2 separate regions of the Homo sapiens genome follow, and region 1 is linked to region 2. Evidence: fine-mapped expression QTL. A gene starts in region 2. The other region holds a variant in brackets. All regions are shown on one strand. Distances are between the middles of the regions. Region 1 overlaps TBC1D13 (TBC1 domain family member 13). Region 2 holds the start of TBC1D13 (TBC1 domain family member 13).

Evidence for each region. PIP is the estimated chance that this variant, and not a neighbour inherited with it, causes the effect.
Region 1: its variant is fine-mapped to the expression of TBC1D13 in aorta (GTEx, PIP above 0.99).

The regions. Positions count from the first base shown.
Region 1 is chr9:128,806,476-128,810,475 of GRCh38, reverse strand. TBC1D13 (TBC1 domain family member 13) reads right to left here. Exons shown (of 12, transcript NM_018201.5): 12 at 46-2,662. The coding sequence ends at 2,597. Among named protein-coding and RNA genes, the nearest start is that of ENDOG, 10 kb to the left of the region's middle. The variant G/AAGG (reference allele first, on the strand shown) is at 2,438.
Region 2 is chr9:128,785,425-128,789,918 of GRCh38, reverse strand. TBC1D13 (TBC1 domain family member 13) reads right to left here and starts at 2,666. Exons shown (of 12, transcript NM_018201.5): 1 at 2,543-2,666; 2 at 1,512-1,585. The coding sequence starts at 2,565. RefSeq lists a silencer at 2,529-3,018.

The sequences.
Region 1 (4,000 bases), 21 kb before region 2:
CCTGTTCTGAGGTCTCCAAAGTTTCAGCTCATCACAGCACCAATGCCCATTGCAAAGAACACATGATTTATTCAAGACAACTCGTCATCAACAGCACTGACTCAAGGAACAAAACAGATGAAAAAACTAAAGCAAACGTTCTGACCCTCTGGAGTGAGACCCGCTGAATTCATACAGCTCAATCTGTAAGTGTCCAAGATCCAGGGGGCAGGTTCTCAAGCAGGAAGCCTCAGGCACTCTGGCTCTGTGGGGACCTCCCTTGGGCATCTGCTTGAGAATCTGGGGAAGGGACATTATCAGGGCAGGTCCTTTCTGCAGGCGGTGTCCTGCTGGGAGCTCAGCCTAACCAAGGCCTGGTCCCTGTGCTCTTGACCTTCATCTCAAGGTCAAGGAGAGGGCACTTGACCCAACTCTGCCAGCGAGGCAAAGTAATGGTGATTCAAGTAGTGTGGTTCCAGGAGGGAAGGTAGGGGGCAGACAAGAGTGAGTGCACTAAAGAGTCCTGGGCAGTGTCTGCTGGGTCCCAGGCAGTGGCCCAAGCTTATGAAGGGGTTGGAGAAGGGGCTGAACCACCAGCTGACAAGTCCTGGAGAGAGGGTGGCCCAGGTGAGCAGGAAGCATCATGCCTCTGCCTCATCCTGGAGGTCCTGGAGTCAGCCCAGTTCTCTTCCCATCTTTACACTCAATTCCAGTACAGAACTCAGAGCCCGCTCAGCCAGGACCTGCTCGAAAACCAGGCAGTTCCTAGAAGCATGGGGAGAAGAGGCTGACTTTGATCTTGGAAAATGAAGAGGATCTTGTCTCCAACTCCTTTCTCCCTTCCTATACCCATGCCTCATCCCCAGAGCACTTGCCAATGTGCAATACATAGCCAGGAGTCTGAATAAATAGTCAAAGTCTCCCAAATACTGTGCTCTGGGAGAGGAGACAGGCAGGTGCGGAAATCCAGGCGGCATCAAAGGAAAAGCCTGGTAGAAGAGCCACCTGGGGAAGCCTTTCCTGGCCCAAAGCCGGGCTTGGAAGGGCAGCGAGAAGTCCTGCCCACCAGACTCGGAAAGCTTTGGGGGCAGGAGGGCTGCTGGGGCCTGACTCCTGCCAGCCAGTCTGGAGGACGAGGGTCCTCACTATGGCACCCGGCTTCCGGACGCAAACCTTGTACAAGGAGGGAGGTGACTTGGTGAGAACTGGGAGTGGCCAGCTGCCCCTGCTCAGGGTACACCTGCTCCAGCCCTGGGAACAGCTCAGGCAGGGGTCAGAGAAGGCCCTGCACCTCCCTCAGCCCGCAGCGGGTGGAGGGGTACACAGAGGCACAGACATGGCCCTCCTGGAACTGGCAGGACCCAGGGCCTTTAAGCTCAGCTACCCCTGGCCCCAGAGAGGCTTCCTCGGGCCCCACTTGCCCTTTGTGGGACTCACTCAACCCAACCCTGGGTTGGGACCTGGAAGCCGAGGGAATGACAACTCTTCTGAAGCAATGGGTTCCGACCCTGGGCTCAGAATCAAGGTCCTTTTCTTTTCGGACAGGAGGGCCTCTGGGGGAACCTCCAGAAAAACCAGCTCCCCCTCTTCCTTCTCCCTCCCTGGGCAGAAAGCAGGGGCAGGAGGCTCAAAGCTTCATCCTTACTCAGCAGCATTTGGTTTCCAAGATTTCTGTGTAGGGAACGGGTTCAGAACCCTCTAAGTGAGGCACGGAGGACTCCCTCCCAGTTGGGAGGACCTAGGAGCCAGGGCTGGGGGATGGGAACAGGAGGCAAAGGCCAAGCTTGACCTCCAGGGGCCTTGCTGAGCCAGTCTCCTCATCTGTCTCCCAGGTTCAGGGGAGCAGAGGCAAGCGGGGAGAGGAGGTGGCTCAGGATAAGGCACCCCAACAGAGAAGGGCAGGGAGAGTAATGGAGAGAGGAATCATGAAGCAAGACACAGTCCCACTCTGGGAAGGAGGTGGAAGGAGACAGGCAGAGAGGTAGAGACAGAGAAGGAGGGGCTGGGAGACCTGGAGGCCTGAGAGACCCTCACTCCCTAACACACACACACACACACACACACACACACACACACACACACACACACGGAGAAGATGCCTGGGGACTTGGGCCCACATTCACACCGACCGACTACAGACATCTGTGGGTGAGACAGACGGCAGGACTCAGCTTTCAGTGTCGCCTTCCCTGTGGAGCAGCCGAAGTGCCCCGCTCAGAAGCGGTTTCTGGCCCATTGGCCAAGCACCTCCCCTGAGTGGAGCCCAGGAGAAGACCAGAAGCAGGAACTGAGGCTGGGGCGGCAGAGCCGAGGCAGGGAGGGGCCCCTGCCAGCCTCCCAGTGCCAGAAACGGCCCTGGCCCAGGAAGGACAACTTCCCGAGCTCCAGCCCTCCTCAGTATCCTGGGCAAAGAGGGCAGAGTGCAGGGCAGGTGGGGAGCTGGGCGTGGCGGCAGAAG[G/AAGG]AGCACGGCACAGTGTGTCCCCAGTGGGCATGGCCTGGGTCTCGGGCCGATCCTGTGGCTTCCCCTCAGGCTGGGTTCCTACAGGTTTCTATGTGTCCCGGGAGCCAGGGCACAGGGTCGGGAGGCTTCTCTCCGGAACATGGGCCTCTTGCCGCCGGGCTACTTTGAGTCTTGGAGCTCCTTGGCTTTCTGCAGGATCTGGCAGACATCTGTGATGGGGTAGTCCTGGGCACAGGAAAAGGCCAACAGTTGCCTCTGAAGCCACTTCACCCCTGCCACACCCACACCCTCCCTGCTGGGACCCGTTGCCATGCTGGATCCTGGGCCTCAGGGGCAGGAGCACAGAACACCAGGCATCCCACACTCCCCAACCCCCAGACCCCTGCATGCAGCTGACGCTACACCATGCAGCACCAACTCAACGATCCAAACACAACCACTCCCAGGCTCTTGCGGCCCTTTCCTCAGGACCAGACCGTGCTGCCTCAGCTCTCCCACTACTGCCACTGAACCCGAGCTCCCTCGTGTGGAGCCAGTAGGACTGGGCCAGTGTCTGAGCATCAGCGCGAAGTCCCAACAGCCCTGTGAGTGGCCACTGTGATTCTGCACTTTTTCCAGATCTGGTCCATGAAGTTAGGGAAAAGCAACTCTAGGCTGGGCTTGGTGGCTCACACCTGTAATCTCAGCACTTTGGGAGGCTGAGGTGGGCGGATCACCTGAGGTCAGGAGTTCGAGACCAGCCTGACCAAGATGGTGAAACCCTGTCTCTACTAAAGGTACAAAAATTAGCCAGACGTGGTGGCACACACCTGTAATCCCAGCTACTCGGGAGGCTAAGGCAGGAGAATCACTTGAACCTGGGAGGTGGAGGTTGCAGTGAACCGAGATTGCACCACTGCACTCCAGCCTGGACAACAGAGCGAGACTCTGTCTCAAAAAAAAAAAAACAACAACAAAGCAACACTAAGGCCACGTGCTGGTGAAGAAGCTGAGACCCAGAGATGCTGTAACTTGGCTTGGGTCACATGATGAGCACAGCAGAGCAAAACTGTGGACCTAAAGCTGTAGGCCCTTGAGCCCATGTTCTTTTTTTCTGAGACAGAGTCTTGCTCTGTCCCCCAGGCTGGAGTGCAGTGATGCGATCTTGGCTCACTGCAACCTCCACCTCCCAAGTTAAAGTGATTCTCCTACCTCAGCCTCCCAAGCAGCTGGGAATTACAGGTGCATGCCACCAAGCCCGGCTAATTTTTGTATTTTTAGTAGAGACGGGGTTTCGCCATGTTGGCCAGGCTGGTCTTGAACTCCAGACCTCAGGTGGTCCACCCACCCCAGCCTCCCAAAGTGCTGGGATTATAGGCATGAGCCACCGCGCCCGGTGAGCCCATGTTCTTAATCACTACACCCCACCCTCCTTCCCCGGGCCTGAGCATGGCCACCAGCAAGCACGGCCATGTTCTGGGCACCTGCTGTGTCCTAGGTGTGAACACCTACGTAGAGTACACGGTTTGAAGGCCAAGTCACTTGCTCAAGGCCACCCAACATTCCAGGTCAGTGGCAGAACCA
Region 2 (4,494 bases):
CAGCCTTTACCACCACCATGTCATCCTAATTCAGGTCAGTTCCCCCTGTTATAAGCAATAATGGCTCTGTGACTATTTCATAGCATCTGTCATAAGTGGAATTATTATATATATATATATATATATGGTGTATTTTCTTAACGTCTGTAACCCCTACTACTGGGTAAGCCCCAGAAGGACAAAAACCACATCTATTATTCCCAGTGCATAGCACAGAGCACTGCACATAGAAGATATTCCATACATATTTGTGGAATATAAACTAAGCTACGAATGCTAAGTATTTTGTGCTTTACAGATATTATTTCATTTAATCTTCATTATTACCCCAGTAAGTAGGGAAGATTAACGTAATTGTCGTAAGAAGGAAACTTATCTGTAAAACTCTTAACTACTAACACTGACTGCCTCTCCTTTGGGGCCTATATTTCACTCCTAAACAGAAAGACAAAGTTATCCTGCAATAAGATCAGGAAGCTCACTACCGCAGTTGCTGCTGTAGTATCCCTGGTACCATGAACATGAGTGAATACCTCCACTTCAGAATCTATATGAGGATGACAGGGACAATATAAGAAGTTCTTTTTTTTTTTTTTTTTTTTGAGATGGAGCTTCACTCTTGTCGCCCAGGCTGGAGTGCAATGGCGCAATCTCGGCTCACTGCAATTCCCAGGTTCAAGTGATTTTCCTGCCTCAGCCTCCCGAGTAGCTGGGATTACAGGCAAGTGCCACCAAGCCCAGCTACTTTTTTATATTTTTAGTAGAGACTAGGTTTCACCATGTTGGCCAGGCTGTTCTCGAACTCCTGACCTCAGGTGATCCACCTGCCTTGGCCTCCCAAAATGTTGGGATTACAGGCATGAGCCACGGCACCCGGCCAGAAGTTCTTGCTGGCAAAGTTACAAGGGCAAAAAAGTGACAAGAAGCTATGCAGAACACGTTGGGATATTTTTTAAAACAGGCAAAAAGAGAGTTATCTTTGTGCTCATTGGGGCAAAGTCTAACACAGCAGGATCAGCTCCTTAAAGTCAGTGTCCCAAGGCTACCCATTTTACCACTAGCCAAGGTTTAGTTCAGGCAGCTTAGACCCCAAGCCAGGGAGAGAACAAGGAACAACCCTGCAGTTAACCAAACTCACCAACACAGGAAGCTAGCTAAGGAATGAGGAAAGACTGTCCTGGGCTCAAAAGGTCCCAACTCTCATTCTCCAGGCTTCAGTCCTGTCCTGTTACTCTCAGGAATCTGGCACCTCCTGCGGAAAGCTTAGGAAAGCTTAGGGCATGCTAAGTGTGGCCACTGCCCCTCTGGGAAACCCCTCCAAGCTCAAGGCAGTCACTGCCTGTTCAGCTCTACAGAATCTGGAAAAGGCCCCAAGAGTCTGTGTGTAATTTCCTTCCAAGGCCCCAGCCCCCAGCAGCTGGGCCCCAGAGCTGACCAGGTGTGGCCTCCCCCTGTATTCTAGCCACAGGGCTGCTGTAGGGAAACCGTGAAAATACAGAATGGCTTCTTACCACTAAAGCTGAGTTCCCGCAGCTTTTCCAATGCAATTGAGGGCTCCTTCAGGACATCCTGGAAATCTGCAATTCTGGAAGGGGAGATAGGGCGGCAAATGAAGCATGCTGATATCGGCTCAGTGAGACCCACAGCCCTCAGCTCCCTCACACTGCCAGTTTCCAACCTGTGCCTCTCTCCCCTTTAGGACATAAAAATCACACAGCTTAGTCAAGGTCCTCACCAAAGACAGCTTTGGAGAACAACAAAACTATATTTCACTTCTTCCTCTACAACCAGAAACACAGAATGCCAGGGAAGAAACTTGAGAGATATTCTTGTCTAGAAGTTCCCAAATGAGGACCATAAAATTAGACATATTCCAACATTCTAATACTTAGTGAGCTGACATTTACTGGGCACTTCCTGCCGGCCAGGCCGGGTCCACGCACAGCCACCAACTGAACTCCTTGGACCTCAGGAACCAGGAGTAATTTGATATGCAGACAATGGACCATGCTCACAAATATAACCATTACAAGACCTCTGGGCCTGCCAGAAGGCAAGGACAAAGGGTTTAAAAAACACGTCCTGAAGGAAAACTGAAGAGTGAGCAAAATTCAGCCAATGCTGCAGGATCTGGCCTGGGGGAGGGGCCAGACTGGAGAATGCAAGTTCTCTAGCAATCCTAGTAAGAAAAAGGCACGGGGGACAGGGTGCACTTGGAGAGAGTACGGGAGCAGGGGGATCAAAAGGGGGAAAGGCACGGGGGCGGGGCATGGGGGTCTGGATGAGGAAGACTCAGGGGAAGGGGGACACCAGGGGTCCAGGATGAGGGAGGCAGAAGCAGTGACATCAGGGGCAGGAGAAGGGCCGCCCCTCCGTCGTTCCTGCAGCCCACAGGCAATGAGGTTAGAAGGTGGACGCTCGAGACCCTCTGCCGAGGGGGTCTGCCGATTCCTGGCCACACCCGCGCTTCCCCCTTCTGAGGGGCAGAAGGGGCAGCCTGGCCAGGAGTGGCCCAGCCGGGTCAGGCCCCATGGCCCCTTACCGGCTCTTGTGCAGACTTGACATGGTGTTGACTTCCGGACCCCCCAGCCGCCTCCGCCGCCTGCGCCTCTGCCGCCTGCGCTGCCGCCGCCGCCGCCGCCCCCCAGGGACGCGGGGCTCTGCGCAAAAGCCTCCGGCGGGAAACACAGCCACTAGCCTGCGCGTTCCACCGCCTCAGCCCCGCCCCGCCCCGCCAGTCACGTGCCACCCCTCGACTCTCACGCTTCCACACGGTACTGGCGGCTACGGCCGGCCGGGTTGAGCGGGGCAACCTCGGGTCTGGTGGGCGTGGCAATCGCGGGCCGGGAGCCCCAGCGCCGCCGACCCTGCGGGCCAAATTTGAGAACCCGCCGGTGACAGCGCAGACTGTGTGTCTCTGGACTATTCCTTGCGCTTCCCTGGGCCTCAGTGTCTACTTACGCAATATACCTGTCACCCTGTCGTCTTCCCTGCACTCACCCCCCTGTAATTAACTACTGCATGATTGTTACAGGAGTCTCGGCCTCCCCTGCTAAACTGTTCAGGCCCCCCAGCTTATCTTGGTCTCTGCAGAATCCTCAAGGCCTGTATAGCAGGGACTCGCATGAACCGCCGTGCGCGGCCCAACTTTTTTTTTTTTTATAAAAACTATACCAGCAAACCCTATAAAATGTAAGTTAGGAAGAAAGAAAAAAACACAAATGATATCTTAAGAAAAATAGGCTGGACCGGGCGCGGTGGCTCATCCCTGTAAATTCCAGTGCTTTGGGAGGACGAGGCAGGCAGACCACTTGAGGTCAGGAGTTGGAGACCACTCTGGCCAACACGGTGAAACCCCGTCTCTACCAAAAATGCAAAAATTAGCCGGGCGTGGTGGCAGGCGCCTGTAATCCCAGCTCCTCGAGATTACCTTCTTTACAAAAGATGTAAAAATTAGTTGAGTAGGCCGGGCGTGGTGGCTCACGCCTGTAATCCCAGCACTTTGGGAGGCTGAAGCGGGCAGATCACCAGGTCAGGAATTTGAGAACAGCCTAACCAACATGGTGAAACCTCGTCTCTACTAAAAATACAAAAATTAGCCGGGTGTGGTGACGCACAACTGTAATCCCAGCTACTCAGGAAGCTGAGGCAGGAGAATTGCTTGAACCCGGGAGGCGGAGCTTGCAGTGAGCCGAGATAGTGCCACCGCACTCCAATAGCGCCACCGCACTCCAACCTGGGCAAAAACGCAAGACCCTGTCAAAAAAAAAAAAAAAAGAAAAGAAAAGAAAAGAAACTGCTTAAAGATTTTCCGAAATGGTTGTATTATTTAACACCTTTTTCTTGAGAAAAAAAAAAAAAGAAAGAAACAGCTAGCCAGGCGCGGTGGCTCACGCCTGTAATCCCAGCACTTTGGGAGGCCAAGGAGGGCGGATCATGAGGTCAGGAGATCGAGACCATCCTGTCTAACACGGTGAAACCCCATCTCTACTAAAAAATACAAAGAAAAAAATTAGCCGGGCGTGGTGGTGGGTGCCTGTAGTCCCAGCTACTCGGGAGGCTGAGGCAGGAGAATGGCATGAACCTGGGAGGCAGAGCTTGCAGTGAGTGGAGATTGCACGACTGCACTCCAGCCTGGGCGAAAGAGCGACACTCTATCTCAAAAAAAAAAAAAGAAAAAGAAAAAGAAAAGAAAGTGCTTAAATATTTTCCAAAATGGTTGTATTATTTAACACCTACCCCAGCAGTATATGAGAGTTGCTGTTGTACCACGTCCTCACCAATACTTGATGTGGTCAGTCTTTTTAATCTTAGACATTCTAGTAGATGTGAAGTGGTATCTCCTGCTTTAACATGCATTTCCCTAAAGACATATGATGTTGAGCATCTCTTCACACGTTTGCTATGCATATATACTCTTCTTTCTTTTTTTTGAGACATGGTCTCACTCTGTCACCCCAGGCTGGAGTGCAGTGGCGCAATCTCAGTTCACTG